Linked DNA regions of Homo sapiens. The protein of the gene in region 2 purifies or fractionates together with the protein of the main gene of each other region. This does not show direct contact. Each region holds a gene or a part of one and is shown on either strand. Other genes may lie near its edges. The genes, in order: ISCA1, ZMAT3, DICER1 and SUPV3L1.

Evidence for each region.
Region 1: the proteins of ZMAT3 (region 2) and ISCA1 purify together in Homo sapiens (affinity purification with mass spectrometry; 2 studies listed by BioGRID and IntAct, with this or other methods). This does not show direct contact.
Region 3: the proteins of ZMAT3 (region 2) and DICER1 purify together in Homo sapiens (affinity purification with mass spectrometry, with the first as the bait; one large-scale study listed by BioGRID). This does not show direct contact.
Region 4: the proteins of ZMAT3 (region 2) and SUPV3L1 purify together in Homo sapiens (affinity purification with mass spectrometry; 2 studies listed by BioGRID and IntAct, with this or other methods). This does not show direct contact.

What each region holds. Positions count from the first base shown.
Region 1 is NC_000009.12:86,271,983-86,276,467, forward strand, and holds part of ISCA1 (iron-sulfur cluster assembly 1 homolog, mitochondrial precursor), read right to left. Parts: intron 2,261-4,485; coding exon 2,207-2,260; intron 131-2,206; coding exon 25-130; intron 1-24. UniProt on the Homo sapiens protein: Involved in the maturation of mitochondrial 4Fe-4S proteins functioning late in the iron-sulfur cluster assembly pathway. Probably involved in the binding of an intermediate of Fe/S cluster assembly.
Region 2 is NC_000003.12:179,064,587-179,069,071, forward strand, and holds part of ZMAT3 (zinc finger matrin-type protein 3), read right to left. Parts: exon of another isoform or gene 4,438-4,485; intron 3,224-4,437; 5' UTR 3,167-3,223; coding exon 2,897-3,166; intron 1-2,896. UniProt on the Homo sapiens protein: Acts as a bona fide target gene of p53/TP53. May play a role in the TP53-dependent growth regulatory pathway. May contribute to TP53-mediated apoptosis by regulation of TP53 expression and translocation to the nucleus and nucleolus.
Region 3 is NC_000014.9:95,146,874-95,151,358, forward strand, and holds part of DICER1 (endoribonuclease Dicer), read right to left. Parts: intron 1-4,485. UniProt on the Homo sapiens protein: Double-stranded RNA (dsRNA) endoribonuclease playing a central role in short dsRNA-mediated post-transcriptional gene silencing.
Region 4 is NC_000010.11:69,183,234-69,187,718, reverse strand, and holds part of SUPV3L1 (ATP-dependent RNA helicase SUPV3L1, mitochondrial), read right to left. Parts: intron 1,781-4,485; exon of another isoform or gene 1,733-1,780; coding exon 1,655-1,732; intron 1,277-1,654; coding exon 1,169-1,276; intron 326-1,168; coding exon of another isoform or gene 253-325; intron 78-252; coding exon 1-77. UniProt on the Homo sapiens protein: Major helicase player in mitochondrial RNA metabolism. Component of the mitochondrial degradosome (mtEXO) complex, that degrades 3' overhang double-stranded RNA with a 3'-to-5' directionality in an ATP-dependent manner.

The DNA.
Region 1 (4,485 bases), on a different chromosome or scaffold from region 2:
AAAAAATGTTTGTTAAAAACTCACCATCTTGAATAACTTCTTCATCAGAATCTCCTTTTGTCTTTGTATATTCTAGAGTATAAGAAAGGCCATTACAGCCCCTGGTTCGGACACCAACTTTTACACCTACCTGAAAAAGAAGTGAAAATATAAACTTGGTTTTAAAGTAGTACAGATTAAACAATTATACTAATAAAGTGACAGTAGCCTCCTCGTACCAAAATGGACTTTCTCTTATTTTTTGTAGGACAGGGTCTCACTATGTAGCCCAGACTGGTCTCAAACTCGTGGACTCAAATAACGCTTCCACCTCGGCCTCTCAAAGCATTGGGATTACAAGGCAGGAGCCACCCCGTCCAGCCTGGGACTTTATTTAAAATGTCTTTGCTCTACCTTGTTCTGTGAGATATCCTCTGAATGTTTCCTTATGGTTAGGATTCACCAGGGTTCATAGTCCACCATCTGGCAATCCTACCTCTACATGGGATCTGAATTATAGTGCAGACTTGTGTACAGTCTCAAATACCAGAAAGCAAAAGACTGCAGTCAATACAGACAAAAGAAGTTTAAAAAAGTGACCAAACAGCACTTTAAAAGTATCAATGTTTACATTAATGCAATTTTCAAACAGTATCTACCTAAGTTCTCTGTCTTAGAGCTGAGCTGATTTTTCATTTAAATACAGTCATCCCTTAGTATGCATGGGAAATTGGTTCCAGGACTAACTGAGTATACAAAAATCTGCAGATACTCAAGTCCCTTATGCAAATGGCACTGCATTTGTATATAACCTATATACATCTTCCCCTGTACTTTAAATAACTTCTGGAGGACTTGAATACCTGTAACAATGTAATGCTACATAAACAGTTGTTATACTGTATTGTTTAGAGAATGAAAGTCTGTACATGTTTAATACAGATGCAACCTTCTATTTTTTTCCCAAATATTTCTGACCTATGGTTGATTGAATCCACGTATGCGGAACCCACAGATACGGAGAGGTGACTGTATACAGCAAAAGTATCATAAGTACTATTTCACCAGCAGTTCCTGATTCTACAAAGCCGAATTCTTGTTTCATTAGGCCAATTTGTAGTCTACTCATCGGTCTATCCAAATTGAATCAGAACACTGATATCCTTTGAAATTTAATAATTTTAAAAGGTAGGTTTGAGAACTTCCATTACATTGTAATGTAGTAGGTTAACAACAGAAACCAGAAATCACCCCACCGTCTAATTATTAAATATTGCAATCCATTACTTGAAATGATTTACAGCATTCCATCGGCAACTAACAATGTACAATTAAGATGATACACACATCCCTAACTCAACAATTCTGTATCTAGGAATGGATCCTATGTAGGTGGACTAAGCCATGCTTACAGTTCTAGAACAATGAGCCTGGCACACTGCAGACACTAAATAGTTGCTGAATGGTGTTTGCGGCAGCACTGAATGAAAACGACCCTTTAATATGGGGACTGGTTAAAGAACTCAAACTTGTTCAATGGAATATACTCTACATGCAGCCAAGAAAGGGAGGCAGATCATTACATAATGACATGGAAAGATCTTCAAGCCATTATTAAGGGTAAAAAGCAAAGTGTAACAAAAAAATTTATGGTAGGAAGAGATATACACAGGAATAACAAGCCCAGTCTAGGCCAGTGGTTGCCCTCAGGGAGACATTTTTGGTTGTGACAACCAAAGCTTTGTGGAATCAGGAACTGCTGGTGAAATAGTACTCACCATACTTTTACTCTATACAGTCACCTCTCCGTATCGGTGGGTTCCACATATGTGGATTCTTTGGTTGAGGCAAAGAGGGGGTACTACTGGTATCTAATGGACAGAGGCCACAGATGCTGTCAAACATTCTACAATCTGCCCTAAAGTGTCAACTGTGAGGAGGCTGAGAAAATCAGGTCTAGCCGCTTCAAATGTATACATTATCCCTGGAAGGATACCAAAGAGATTGCTTCTTGGAAGGAAGAATGACGACGAAGAGTCAGGTTGAAAGAATGACTTCCTTTTAGTTAAATACCCTTTTGTATTATTTGAATTTTTTAAAAATCCTGAGTATATTTTACATTTTAAATAAAAACCCCTAAATGAAATAATACTGTATATCATGGGATAAATTCATTCTGAAAATGCAGCTTCAGTTTTTTACTGAATAATTAACTGGTTTTACTTACATGCTCAGGCTTATCTTTAAGAAGTTGTTTTATCTTGTTTACTGCTGAAGGTGTCTGAAAAAAGAAAATGATGTTTTTAGCTACAAAACTTGTTATTCAAAGCCTCATATTTATCAGTCTTCGTAAGTCTGTCTTTAGCAAATTCATGTGACAAATTTATGTTCCATTCTTGCCAGGGTACCTTATGGACTTTATATAGAAACACATAAACTATACCTAATTCAAAATATCCTCTTTATTTAAAAAAAAAATCTGCTAGCAACATCCTTTTAATCTTGCTCCTCAGTCCAGGTTGGTTCCCTGTCCTTCTCTCTATGGTGCTATTCACTCACATTACAAATGCTATTTTTCTGGGCAGCATCTATTTTGTGCACCAACTCTATGCCCAGGAACCAGCATGTTGCCTACGACAAAGAGCCAATGAAGGAATCAAGTATCTCACTGGGAAGGCCAACCTTCAGGTGTTTTTCCTGTTGATTATTAATCCTACTGCTTTTTTTTTTCTTACTCACAATCCATTTCTAATCCATCAAAATGCATAGCTTGAGGAAACAGTGTTACCAGCATAAAATAACCCAGGGTGTGCTTCTTGCACCAGTCCCACCAAATGCTCACATAGATTTTTTTCAACGTGGATTAAACCAACATCTCAGGAGATCTAGATGAACAAAACTAAGCTAGTCAATGACAGAAATAAGAACAAGGAGGAGCTGTTTCCCAGAGAAATGCTGTTTTAACATAGCTCAGCGGGCCTCAAAATGAGAAAAACATCACAGTTTGTGTGAAATAGGTCGGTGTTGCCAACCCCACTTCTTTGGGAAGGAGACTGTTCCCCGACATTCCTGGCCCACTTCCTAGCTGTGCCTCCAGGGCAGTCACCCTAAGTGGCTTCTCTGACTTCTATTCCCTTACTGGTGAAACAGGGATAACAGTTCCTCCTCCTCCTGATTCTTGTGAGGATTAAATATTTAAACTCATGGAAAGCATTCAGGACAGTGCCAGGCACAAAAATACCAAGTATTATTATGATTATGAGAGTACATCATAATGAAGACATTATGTGCGTCCTTCCTACTTTATCAGCTCCTCTAGCTGGCAGTGCTCTGCAGGCCCTCCAGTCCCTTGTACTGACATTTTACTGTACAGTAAAGTCTTTGAGACTGCTTGTGAAGTCTCAAAGTCTGGATATTACGACCTAAGACTTGGTAGTAAACTGAGGCCAGGACTGACACCTGGAAGAGCCAGCCCAATGGATGGCCCTAGAGTGTGCTCTCCTGCCCTGTCGGGGTTGGGGCTCAGCTAGATGAGCATGCTTAAACACAGTACAGACCCAGTTTAGAAGGGCATGAAAGCAATTTGGAATGTGAAGACCAACATGTCTTAAACATTTTAAATAGAAAACAATGCACTGCACTTAAAAACGTGAATGTTGTTTAGTAAAACTTTTAATTCAGTTATTAATATATAGTATCTGTGTATATACATTTCTTATTACATGTCACTGTAAAAAAACAAACCACTACCAGTAGGTGGGCCTCTAAAGGCCCATGGTTTCCCATGGTTCTGTCAGAAAAGGAGGCATGCAGTCCTCCAACGCAGGAAGTAGCACACAGGGTGGAAGGAGAAAACAGGGAAGAGCAGGATTATGGTTTTGTTTTTGTTTTTTGAGTCACAGAATACCAACTTTAAATAGTTACAGAAATAGTTATTATTTTTTAAAGTGCTCATTACCCTTCTAAAGCAGTGGTCCCAAATGTTTTTGGCATCAAGGACTGGTTTCGTGGAAGACAATTTTTCCACGGATAAGGGGAATGGTTTCTGAATGATTCAAATGCATTACATTTATTGTGCACTTTATTTCTATTATTACATTGTAATATATAATGAAATAATTATATAACTCATCAAAATATACAATCAGTGGGAGCCCTGAGCTTGTTTTTCTGCAACTAGATGGCCCCATCTAGGGGTGATGAGAGACAGTGACAGATCATCAGGCATCATTCTCATAAGGAGTGCACAAACTAGCCCCTCACACCTGCAGTTCAGACTAGGGTTTGTGCTCCTATGAGAATCTAATGCCCCTGATGATCTGACAGGAGGTGGAGCTCGCTTAGGTGGTAATGCTTGGCTTGCCTGCTGCTCTCACCTCCTGCTGTGAGGCCCTGTTCCTAACAGGCCATGGACCAGTACCAGTCTGTAGCGCAGGGACTGGGGACCCCTGTTCTAAGTGATTGTCAATAAAAGCTAGCTTTCTTATCAACCACATGTAAATTTTC
Region 2 (4,485 bases):
GCCCAGCTAATTTCCTTGTATTTTTGTAGAGACAGGGTCTTGTTATGCTGTCCATGCTGGTCTTGAACTCCTGAACGCAAACTATCTTCCCGCCTCAGCCTCCCAAAGTGCTAGAATTACAGGTGTGAGGCACCACACCTGGCCTGGTCTTAGCCTTGTCTTCAGTAATCTTTCTTTTATTACTGCTTATTCATGTACACCCTCTGATGCATCTTTTTGGCTAACATTTCTACGCTTTCCTTCTTTGGTAGCTCACCCACTTCTAGAGTTATGTTCACACTCTGTTTATTATTCTGATCTACACTTTGCACTATCCACTCTCATCTTGACCATTTCTATCTTATTGAAATCCAGATTTCACTTCTAAGATTACCTTTCTTCTATGTTACCCTAACATAATTGCTCTGTATTTTTACACATGAACTGCTTTGCCTTAGTTGTCTGTTAAAACCTTCTCTCTTTAAGAGTTACCAATAACATCAGTCTCATTCGAATCTTTGCTTCTGAAGTCTTAGCAATATACTTTATTATACCCAAACTTTTCATTTTCTGTAAGCTCCTACTTTCTGATTACTTGCTTGCCTCTTTTCTTTCCCATCTTTACCCTGGTTTTTAGCTGCTTAAATTGTCCCATTACATCCTGTTCTCCTTCAACCTTTCCACTTAAAAATTCTGATTTTTGAGAAATTTACCTAAATTGTATTTCCCTTTTCTTATATTTTCTAATTTATTTATTCACTGTATCACTGAGGAAACTGAAATTAAGTATAATTACTAATCTTGTCAACTACATAGTTTAGAACATACGCAAAAATGTAAAATAAAAGAAAAAAACAAATGTTGATTCTGCTTATCTAGTTTTAGCCTTATAATCCAAAGACCTTGCATCAAACTGAATCTTCTCTATGTATCATCAGTAGCACCTTTCAAAGTCCATGAAGTCAAAAAGTTTTATTAGGAGAAAAAAAGAAATAAGGTATATGTATAATCCATGGACATGTTAAAATTACACACTGCCCGAGAGTTTTCCCTCATAAAAGTAAACAACTCTTCCTTAAAAGGGAATTATAGGCTGGGTGCGGTAGGTCACTCACGCCTGTAATCCCAGCGCTTTGGGAGGCTGAATCTAGCCAACATGGCAAACCTCCATCTCTACCAAAAATACAAAAATTAGCTGGGTGTGCTGGTGTGTGCCTGTAATCCCAGCTACTCGAGAGGGTGAGGCATGAGAATCGCTTGAACCCCGGAGACAGGGGCTGCAGTGAGCCAAGATCGCGCCACTGCACTCCAGCCTGGGCAACAGAGCGAGACTCTGTCTCAAAAAAAAATAAATAAATAAAGATAATTATATATGTGTATAGCATACAAGTGGGTTTGCCCCCAAGTTAATGATTTGTTAGGGGCTTTATATGGCTAATAATTAAACCTTTAGAACCCTGGCTTCTTTTTTCAAAGTGAGTCTTAGGCTATAAAACTGAACATTCCGTAGGAATAAATGAAGAAAGCTAATACAGTCTTGGAGTTGAGATTAATCATGCTAACAGACTCTGCTTGAATGGTAAAGACAGGCAAAGGAAGACCCTGTATCAAACAACTGTACTGGACAGCAAGGTGATGAGAGTACGTACTGGGGAAAGGGGGAAAACGTAAAAATAAAACCAGAAGAGGCCTTTAGGAACCAATGATGACACATGTCAAGAGCTGCGAGATATAATTAACTCAACTCTCTGCACCTGAGGGCAAAACAAAACCACATAATGGGAACTTAAAGGAGGCAACATATTATGTCTTCCCCTAAATACCAGAGAAAACAATTGACCATCAAAATACTTCCGACATACAATCAAAAAGCAACACAATAATCAGTCTTTGGGATCAAAACAAAACAGAAAAGACTTAACACCCACAGTAAACAAAGTGGAGAAAGTTATAGTGCACAACAGAAGAAACACCTGTGTAACAGTCTTCTACCATACTCTCTTATTACTAGAGATTTTCAAGCAGATAATAAATAATCAAATCAGTGATGACCCGGGAAGACATCATTCACTGGGTTTTGTCCTTGATTATCTCCCAGGTCTCTTTTCTCCAAAAAAGGAAATTATTTAACTTTATACAGACAAATGTCTAGAATAAAAAGAAATATTGTACCGTCTCTTGCTAACCAAAGTTTAATTTTCCATTTGTTCTTAGGTAATATTACCCTTTAAAATGGTCCTTTCCACTAGCTATTCAACATGGAGGTGAAAGCTTTAAATCTTAAAAACCAGTATTAGTTTACGCTAATGGGCTAAAATAAATCAGAGTATGTTTATTATGAATGAAGGATAGGGCTCAATATTGCAATGTCATTTTATTCTCACCACAAAAAGATACCTGTGTTTTCCTTACCAGTGATAGGATATATAAGAGTTAGAAGTCAAAAATGGAAAGCATAAGAGTCATGCACAGAGGTCACCTCGAAATGATGCAAATTATATTAGCTTCTAAACAATTTTACACTGAATTGAGTTCGGTACATCATGGGTTTTTTTGTTTGTCTGAGACAAAGTCTCGCTCTGTCACCCAGGCTGGTAAATAGTGGTTTAAATACTTGTTCTTCTTAAGACTACAGGTTCAGATGCCAGCATAGATCATTTACATTTGCCTACAAAGACTGGTAAGCTATCGCATGCCACACAGCTTAGTGTAACAGGTTGAGATCCAGTCTACAAAAAGTGATACTTATTTTTAAAGTAAAAACATAAGGCTTTTAATCAAACAAATTCATAGTTAGTTGTTCTCTAAGCCATCTTGGTATTCCAGGCACAGTCATATCTGGAGAGACAACTGCTAAATAGCCAGAGCCCTGAAATGTTCACCCTACTCAATGCCTGGTTTTCTTTTCTCCCTTTACCTGATAATGAGCCTGGGCTTGCTGTGCAGAGTTCAAGGTGACATTGCAGAGTTTGCAGTACAGGGGCTTACATAGCTCCTCCAGGGCACAGTCTTGCTCCCCTCCCTTCGATAACTCTTCTTCCCCTGCAAGAGGCAAGGAAGCCTCCTGCCCAAAAGGCTTCTGTGGTGGAAGCTGCAAGGTTCCTGTAGACCTGGTGGCCACTGACATAGGAGGCGAGGGTGAGGGCTGCTTAGGTGGAGGAAGCACGGCGTGTTGCAAGAGGATCATTGGGTAGGGAAGCCTGGGGCATAATCCAGTGGGTGATGAGAAGCAAGGTCTTCAAATCTGAATCAACAGCAAAAAAACAGAAAAAAAAACTCACTTGAAAATCAGACTTCAGCAAGATAACATGTAAATGACAACATAATCTGACCCTTTCTTCTACTTCTCCAAACCCATCTTTGGGACTTCTTTCCTTTGGCCTCATTTAGCAGACTTCCCCTGCCTGTTAATTCATGTTAACACGGTGCTCTTCCACTGAGAATGGCTTTATAGATTTGGCTTTATTTTGCTTGGCACAGTTCCAACTGCTATCCCTTTGGCCCGTGAACATTAACAGCATTGCATCCACGGCTAAATCTAAAAGTCACATGGCTGAAATGGACATCAAATGTCACCTAGTCCAGACCCCTTCCCTCAGGCACACTTACACTTAAACACTCTTAATGATAATCATGCACAGACAAAAACACCACGAGCTGTCCAGGTGTGGTGGCTCACGCCTGTAATCCCAGCATTTTGGGAGGCCAAGGTGGGCAGATCACCTGAGGTCAGGAGTTCGAGACCAGCCTGTTCAAGACAACATGGTGAAACCCCGTCTCTACTAAAAATACAAAAATTAGCCAGGTGTGGTGGCGAGTGCCTGTAATCCCAGCTACTCAGGAGGCTGAGGCAGGAGAATCGCTTGAACCGGGGAGGCAGAGGTGGTCGTGAGCCGAGATCGTGCCATTGCACTCCAGCCTGGGTGACAGAGCAAGACTGTGACTCAAAAAAAAAAAAGACCACCAGCTAAAAATCTTAGCAAACATATCTTCCAACCAACCAATATCAAAAAGAGTGTATAAAAGAATATCATCTTGCAGAATTCTTAAAGCACTTATAGAACTAGCTAAAATTTCAGGGAACTCTAGGAGTAGCCTAAAGTATGACAGAAATAAATAAAATATGTTCCTTCTGATCAACTAGCAATATTTAAGTAGTTGAGCAAATGTATAGCAGAGGTGGCAAACAGCCTGTGGGCCACATACAGCCACAGATGTGCTGTTTGGAATATACAGTTTTGTTTTCATTTTTTTAAGTCGAATTAGTTGTTAGCATTTAAAAATCAAGAGATTCATGGCTTCTCTTGAAAAAGGATGATCTGGCATCACTTGGCCCACATTCCTATATGGGACGCAATTAGCTAGTTAGTGCTCAGAGGCACTGTGCCCTCTAGCGAGGCCTGCCTTCTCTGGGACACCTCAGTCCCCACTCAGCTGCTGCCTGTACTTGTTACTTGCCTGTTCTCTGTGAGCTCTTGAGTTTACAGCCCTGCCTCATACAGCCTT
Region 3 (4,485 bases), on a different chromosome or scaffold from region 2:
TCTTAGTTAAAAACTAAAGGAAAGGAAAAAGGGAGGGAGTGAGGAAGGCTAAGAAGGAAAAGGAAGTGAGAAAGGATAAGAAGGAAAAGGAAGAGAGGAAGGAGGTGAGAGAAAATTAGTTTACCCAAAAATTAATGATGAATTACTTGGATGAGTATTTTTCCTTTAAACTTTTCAGCATTTTAAATTTCCTACAACTTGAACACACAGAATTGGGAATTGGAAAACAAACTTTCAAACTGTGGATGATTTGTGTGACGATAAGCTAGAGACATACAATTCTGTTTTAGGTATTGAAAACATCCTCCCAGCCGTGTGCAGTGGTTCACACCCATAATCCCAGCAATTTGGGAGGCCAAGGTGGGCAGATCACGTGAGCCCAGGAATTCTGAGACCAACCTGGGAAACATGGCAAAACCCCATCTCTACTAAAAATATAAAAATTAGCCAGGTGTGGTGGCATGTGCCTGTAGTCCCAACTCCTCAGGAGGCTGAGGCGGAAGAATCACCTGAGCCTGGGGGGCTGCAGTGAGCCATGATCACACCACTGCACTCCAGAGTAAGACCCTGTCTCTAGAATGAATGAATTAATGAGTAAAAACCTCCCCCGTTAAGGCACAAAATGTGGTAACATTTACCTGAATATCTGAGTGGGAAAAAACACACACAAACTGTTTTTCCTTTGTTCTCACACACCACATAAAATTTCTGTGACCAAATGTGTGGGGTTTCTCCCCAACAACAAGCAAGCCATCAATTCTGCAGCGGACACCAGCTGGGTGTCTTCTATTAATGACTGAATTCCAACATTATCTACCTGGAGATAGCATCAGATCCCACAGGTTGAGGGCTCCAGTCCTCAAGACCTCCCCCACCCTTCCGTGTCAATTGCAAACCTCAGGTTATTTTTTGCCCGTGCTCCCGACCAATCAGTTAACTGGGGTTCCCACAACGCCCTCCTGGGATTTAACTTGCTAGACCAGCTCACAGTCCTTGGGGAAAAACTTACTTATGTTTACCAGTTTATTATAAAGGATATTACAGGCTGGGTGCAGTGGCACACGCCTGTAATCCTAGCACTTTGGAAGGCCAAGATGGGAGGATCGCTTGAGGCCAGCAGTTCGAGACCGGCCTGGTCAACACAGCGAGAGTCCATCTCAATAAAAATAAGTAAATTAATTAGGTAAAGGATATTACAAAGATCCAGATGAAGACATGCACAGGGTTAGGTATGGAGAAGGGGTATAGAGCTTCCAAGCCCTCCCAGAGCAAACTGCCCTCCAGGAACCTCCATGTGTTCAACTATCCAGAAGCTTTCCAAACTCTGTCCTTCAGGGTTTTTATGAAGACTCATTACCTGGGCATGATTAACCTTCAGCCCCTCTTCCCTCCCCAGAGGTTGGAGGGTGGGTCTGAGTCCAAACCTCTAATCATGCCTTAGTCTTCCCAGTAACCAGCCCCCATTTTGAAGCTACCAGGAGCTACCGGCCACCAGTCGATCATTAGCATACAAAAACACATCACTTTGGAGATTCTAAGGATTTCAAGCCTTGTATGCCTAAGAATAGGGTAGAGGACAGACCAAATATATATTTTACAGTATCATAGTACCTACAATTTAAACCACAAATTCATTAGCCTTCTTTTCATGCATTACTGTATCTGAACCAAATAAATTTCTGGGTTTCTCTAAATCTCTAACATAAATATGTTATGTTTAGATTTCAATATAATCATGCCTAAAATTAGATTGGTCCAAAATTGAAGTGGAACACAGGTCAAATACCATCTTAACAAATTCCACCCATCAAAGATCTCCATATAAGAAGTGTCTCCAGGCTGCAAGCCAAAGGTCCGCTTACTTCTTGGAGTACTTCTCAGAAAGATGACATTTCAACACATCAAAACAGCACAGATACCCACCCCTCCCCTTCAAGTTACCTATAATGACATTTGTCCTACAGTTTTGTTTCAAGAGACATAAATACTTAACACATCACTAGCTTTCAAGGTGAGTTTTAAGGTTCATATTTGATTCCAAGTTTCTGTACTTTACTCTTTTTTTTTATTTTTTATTTGGAGACAGGGTCTCACTCTGTCTATTTACAGGCACCATCAGAGCACATTACAGCCTTGAACTCCTGGGCTCAAGTGATCCTGCCATCTCAGCCTCCTGAGCAGCTGAGACTACAGGCACATACTTTACTCTTAACACTGTGCAACGAGTGCTAGAATTTTATTCAATTCACGACTACCCTCTACCTTTACACCAAGAAAGAGCATCCATTGGGAAAAAGGAGCCACAATTTTCTCTTTGTCAAGCTGTTTTAAGATATATAACATGAATACTTAAATACTAAAGGGAGGTCAATCCAGAGACAAAATGAACATAAGAGACTACTGAGTTAAGATGGATGTTTATTGAGACAGGAAAGCAAATATATTAAAAGGTCCAGGCAAGAGTGTGACGCACTACATCATCATAGCTTCTGCGCAACATCTCATGTTATCTGCCTTTCCCGTAACACCAAAACAAGTGTGTACCAACAGAGTTCGCCACCTCTCACGAACCCCACCCCACAACTTTCCCTAAAAACCTCTATCACTTTAGTCCCCTCCCCTCTCATTTAGCACACATGGGCTAGCTACAACACCCAAATCATCACGGGCTTCATTATATTACTGCCCCATATATTAGCTGTTATTGCCATCTCCCTCAAGAGTATTAAGATCTTTGAAAGATAATCTCATACTATACTCACATTCATATTACATAGTTCATGATTTGTTTGATTTTCACGTTACTGTAAATTTGTAATGACTAGGTAGTTTGGAATGTAGGAAAGTAAATATCCATGAATAATTTTTTATTAATTAATTCGATGTTGAGAATAAGCTTTATTGATCTTAACTATTGAATTAAAGCAGCTTTTTATAGGTCAAATATAAAACTCAAATTAGACACTTTTAAATTAAAAGACTTTAAACAACCCAAATTATTTCAACAAGCTTAACATCCTCGATCTTGGCACCCAAGTCCAAAAGAATAATTCGAGGCTAACTAGAAACTGTCAAAGCTAGAGAGGTATCAGTTAGTGCAATGATAATTTTGGTATCATCTGACTATACCCATCCTAGTTTTCTCAGTTAACTTCCAACCACTACAAAATTCTCTTCCATATTAATGCAAACTAATCTGACTCCAACCTTGAAGATGTTTCAGAAACAATTTTAAAGTTCTTAAAGTTACAGGTGCAACTGGGAAAACCCAACTCAAGACAGTCTTATTTCTCAACTTAGTTTCTCATTTTACAAACTGTATTTTGTAGGCCGGGCACGGTGGCTCATGCCTGCAATCCCAGCACTTTGGGAGGCAGAGACAGGTGAATCACTTGAGGTCAGGAGTTCGAGACCAGCTTGGCTAACATGGTGAAACCCCGTCTCCACTTAAAAAATACAAAAATTAGCTCAATATAGTGGCTTGCACCTGTAGTCCCAGCTACTCAGGAGGCTGACACAGGAGAATCGCTTGAACCCAGGAGCCAGAGGTTGCAGTAAGCTAAGATCACGCCACTGCACCCCAGCCTGAGAGACAGAGCAAGACTCAGCATTAACAACAACAAAAAAGAAATCGTATTTTGTTAGGTTTAAAATTCAGGCGAAACTCTACTGAATGTCAACTAATAAATGTAGAAGGAATGACAGAAAAGTCACCATTTTTAACCATCACATTAGTGATTGAAGCAAGGATCATTAATGGATGCTAAAACCATTGGGTGAAGGTTACTAAAGAATATTTACATAGCCTGAAAGCTTTTCTGCAGATTACCTACTAATTACAAATGAAAACTAGTATTTTTATTCAGTGGAAAAACCAGATAGATACCCCTTTAATCCAAGTGACAAAGCTAAGATCACCAGTATTAGGACAAACTGACAACACATACCTAATGTAGTTTTCCTACTGAAAGTACAAAACTTGAATCTATTTTTGCCGGGGGAAAGAGGGGAACAGAGTCTCGCTCTGTTGCCCAGACTGGAGTGCAGTGGCACAATTATAGCTCACTGCTACCTCAAACTCTTAGGTTCTAGAGATCCTCCTGCCTTGGCCTCCTAAAGTGCTGAGATTACAGGAGTGAGCCACTGTGCCCAGCTGAAACCTGAATCTAATCATAAGGAAACATAAAACCTAACTTGAGGTTTATTTTACAAAACACTTGGCTTTATACACTGAATTGAAGTATGATTTCAAGGATGATGTGTTAATTCATGCATAGCAGATGAAGAATGTGTTATTTAGGGAAAGTTAAGAGACGTTTAAGGCACTGTTACATTTGGTATCACTACTACAGAGACCAACTAAGATAGCTGAACCAGTATAGATAATCCTCCTCGAAAACTTGTCTGTAAAATATTGTTCTCAAGCCCTCTTTTCCTTCATCCTCCATTATATTACTAGACCATACATTTCAATATTGATAATTT
Region 4 (4,485 bases), on a different chromosome or scaffold from region 2:
ATCATCCTTACAGTCCAACACAGGAAATATTTGTTTGGCATGTCTCAAGAAAAATGGGAATAAATCATCCGCATGAGCTGGAAAATAAAACACTGTATTAACATGTGCAATCTACATAAAATTCGTAACTAAATTTAGTGAAATCTTTTTTCTTAACAAGCTAAGTTGCGGGGGCACTGCCAGGGTAAAAAGAAAAGTCCTCTCTGGGCACAGTAGCTCACGTCAACAATCCCACCACTTTGGAAAGCTGACCTGGAAGGATGGCTTGAGCCCAGGAGGTTGAGGCTACACACTGAGCTGAGACTGAGCCACTGCACTCCAGAGCCTGGGTGACAGAGTGAGACCGTGTCACAAAAAAAAAAAAAAAAAAAAAAAAAGGAAGAAAAGAAAAAAAAAAGTAGAAAAGTCCTGAGGTTACAGGCCTTATCCTTTTCTGGGATCCTGTTTTGTCTTACTTTTTCCTTTTAATTTATATTTTCAGGAAATTGGCTAGCAACCACCACGTCCTACTCCTTTAGTACAAACAGGCAAAGATTAGCATTGGCAAAAGTTAAATTAAAAATAAAGAACCTAGACATGTACATTACAGAGATGAAGGCGCAAACATTTTTTAAACTTCGAAAACCACAGACAGGCAAAAACATGTGTTTGTTCCTCAGCAAGAATTCTCCACATCTTAGTGGCTCTGAGAGGAGGCTGGGGCATGTCCCATTCTGCGTTGTATCCTCAGTGCTGGGCACAAGGTACAGGTCTAAGAGTCAAATACATAACCAAAGCCAAACTGCCTGTGGGAATGAAACTATGATATTTTGACTTTTTTTTTTTCTTTTATAGCAAGAACTTTGTCCTGATATGAGGGAGAAGGAAGCCAGTGGCAAAAACAGATGGAATCTGCTATGCACTAATTCCAACTTGTGTGAGAGCTTATTTCACTGGGCCCCAGTCTTCCTCCAGTCTAAGACATATGGGTGATGTAATAACCAGCTCAGGGACCCAATATAAAAGCAAACAACCTAGAAGTCATCCTGTGAAAGCACTGAATTATTTACAGAGGATGTTACCAGACCCACTCTAAACCAAATAAGCCCTTCTAGAGAAATGAGCATGAAGTATGAGAAGAAATAGAAGGTATGTTCAATAGGATTTTAAAAAGTCTCTAAACACTTGCCTGCACCGAAGCAAATATCATTCAAAACAATGTGAATGTCCACATCCAGGGAATGAGACTGCATAATATAATTTCTAAAGCTTATGAAAGCTTGGTGGAAGAGACGAGCTGTAGAAACACAAAATGAAAAGATGTAAGGTGTAGTTCTCATTTTAAAAAGCACACAGACACACCACACCAAACTCATCAAAGAGTCTTTTTTTTTCTTTTTTTTTTTTTTTTTTTGGCAGTACAGCTGGTTTATTATGATCTGGGCTAAAACTGAAGTCCTAGCACAGCATGAAGGAAGGCCGCAGCTGCAGCTCCTCTGCCGTGCAGTATGGCTCACCAGGTGAGCCTCGCCAGTCTCCCACTCAGCCAGAAGCAAAGAGCAGGGACGTGTCTCCAGACTACAACAGCCAGGTCACATGAGGGGTCGTACAGTCCTGACCAAGCTGTACCGTAAGAGGTAATAAAATACCTCTATGAAGATGTTTTGGGCCTTACCATCAAGTCCATAATCAGCACCCAGTTTCTGAATTTCTTTCCTCTTGTAAAATTTGTCTAAGACCTTCTTTACTTCATCTAGAAGAGAGATGTCAAAATTTAACGTTTCCTTATCTTAGATAAATGCTGAAAAAAAGCAAAAGAAACTTGAAGCAATAACACTAAAGGCAGCAGTCTAATGAGTGTTGCAAGAACTAGAAGGTTTTAGTCGATCCTTCTTTATGAATTCATATGCGATGGGAGTGTTAAGAAAAATGATCGAGTTGGCCGGGCACGGTGGCTCACGCCTGTAATCCCAGCACTTTGGGAGGCTGAGGTGGGCGGATCACGAGGTCAGGAGATAGAGACCATCCTGGCTAACATGGTGAAACCCCGTCTCTACTAAAAATACAAAAATTAGCTGGGCCTGTTATTGGGCGCCTGTAGTCCCAGCTACCCAGGAGGCTGAGGCAGGAGAATGGCATGAACCCGGGAGGCGGAGCTTGCAGTGAGCCGAGATGGGCCCACTGCACTCCAGCCTAGGAGACAGAGCGAGTCTCCGTCTCAAAAAAAAAAAAAAAGAGAAAAATGATCGAGTCAAATAATGCAGCACCCTGTTATACCATAGAGGAATGAGCAATGCACTCTGGGATGAGAGGCAGCCTCAAGCCTTCACCAGGCCACTTATAGGTAGAGAGCCACACTGTCATTCACTTATAACGATTCTGCACATCCAAACAGTGAGCAGCTAAAACACATCCAGAAAGACAACCAATATAGCAAGGACCAGATCCTCATGCTTAAGGAAGCCACGCTGATGTTAAGTTTGAGGATGATGATTTCAGGGATAAAAGATTACACTTGTTTTGTGCTAGATGGCATAACTAAAGTCAGTGGGAGCAGATTTCAGTGGAATTTATACAAGAACTTCCTAACAATTAGAACAGTGAAAAGTGAGAGCTCCTTGCCAATGGAATTACTCAAGCAAGGGTTAGATGACTGTCAAGGGTGACGGCAGAGAAATGTCTATGCTATTGGGAGATAACATGCCACTATGAATCAATAATCTTAGAGGTAAAAGTATTTTAAACTAATCAAGCTGAGATTGTATTATGGTTGTATATGTTAAAATACTACAGCATTATTCAATAAACATTTTACTGACTCAGTCACACACTATGTATTTCTAGGAGGAGAAGCCACAATGAGGACACAGCCTTTACCCATGAAATTCAGAAAGGCCAAGTGACCTGTATTTTTACCTTTCACAAATGTGCCAACCACATTTTCACACAGTCCAACACACACAACACTCATTGAAGAAATCAAGCCTGAACAAAGCATTCCACTAATAAAACTGTTTGACAGAATGAGGAAATTTCAGAATCACTAGATCTGCCCACAATTAAATATGAGATACACATACACACACAGTGTGTGTGTGTGTGTGTGTGTGTGTGTGTGTGTGTATTTATATTTCAGATCACAGGCAGATTTCTGGGTCTCTGTTACTTTGTGCCGGGTAGGAACAACAGTTTCTTTTTTTCTTGGAGACAGTGTTTCACTCTTGTTGCCCAGGCTGGAGGGCAATGGCGCGATCTCAGCTCACTGCAACCTCCGCCTTTCGGGCTCAAGAGATTCTCCTGCCTCAGCCTCCCAAGTAGCTGGGATTACAGGCATGCATCACCATGCACCATGCCCGACTAATTTTGTATTTTTAGTAGAGACAGGGTTTCTCCATGTTGGTCAGGCCGGTCTCGAACTCCTGACCTCAGGTGATCTGCCAGCCTCAGCCTCCCAAAGTGCTGGGATTACAGGCGTGAGCCACTGCACCTGGCCAACAGTTTCTTGGTATCAAGGGTAGAAAAACCAATGACAAATAAAAGATTGGAAAAAGGCACATGCCATCATTGCTTGGGAAAATTCTGCTGACCTATAAACTCGATACAAACTAAAGACAGATCACATTTATTTAGAATTAACCTATTTTCTGTGACTAATACTACGGTGTTATATAAGATTCATGCTGCTTTACTCAAATTAAAATGCTTCCAAAATGTGAAATTTCTCATTATGCTAAGTAAAAGAAACCAGTTACAAAAGACCAATACTATATGACACTATAAATATGAAATACACAAAACAGGCAAATCAACAGACAGAATGTGGATTAGTGGTTATCTGGAGCTAAAAAAAAAAAAAAGACACTGGGGACTGGGGAACTAGAGAGTGACTTGCTAACAGATATCAGGTTTCTTTTTAGGGTGATAAAAATGTTCTAAAATGAAATTATGGTGATGATTGTACAATCCTGCAAATACACTAAAACCCAGTGAATTATACACTTTTAAAGGGTGAGCTTTCTAGTATGTAAATTAAAATTGTATCTTTCTTTTTTTATTTGAGACAGGGTCTCACTCTTGTCACCCAGGCTGGAGTGTGGTGGTGCAATCTCGGCTCACTGCAACCTCTACTACTACCCAAGCTCAAGCAACCCTCCCACCTCAGCCTCCCAAGTAGCTGGAACTACAGGCACACACCATCATGCCTGGCTAATTTCTGTATTTTTTGTAGAGATGGAGTTTTGCCATGTTGCCCAAGCTCGTCTTGAGCTCCTGGGCTCAAGCGATCCACCCTCCTGGGCCTCCCAAAGTGCTGGGATTGCAGGCACGAGACACTGCGCCCAGCCTAGTCTTTTTAAAAGAACATTCTGACTGCAGGTAGAGAATAGAATGAAGGGATCAAAGGCATATGAGGAGACACATAAGGGGCTATATGTGCAGTCCAGTCAAAAGATGGAAGCTGGCAATTTAGACTAAGCTGGTTGCAGTGGAGAATGAGGGAAATGAATG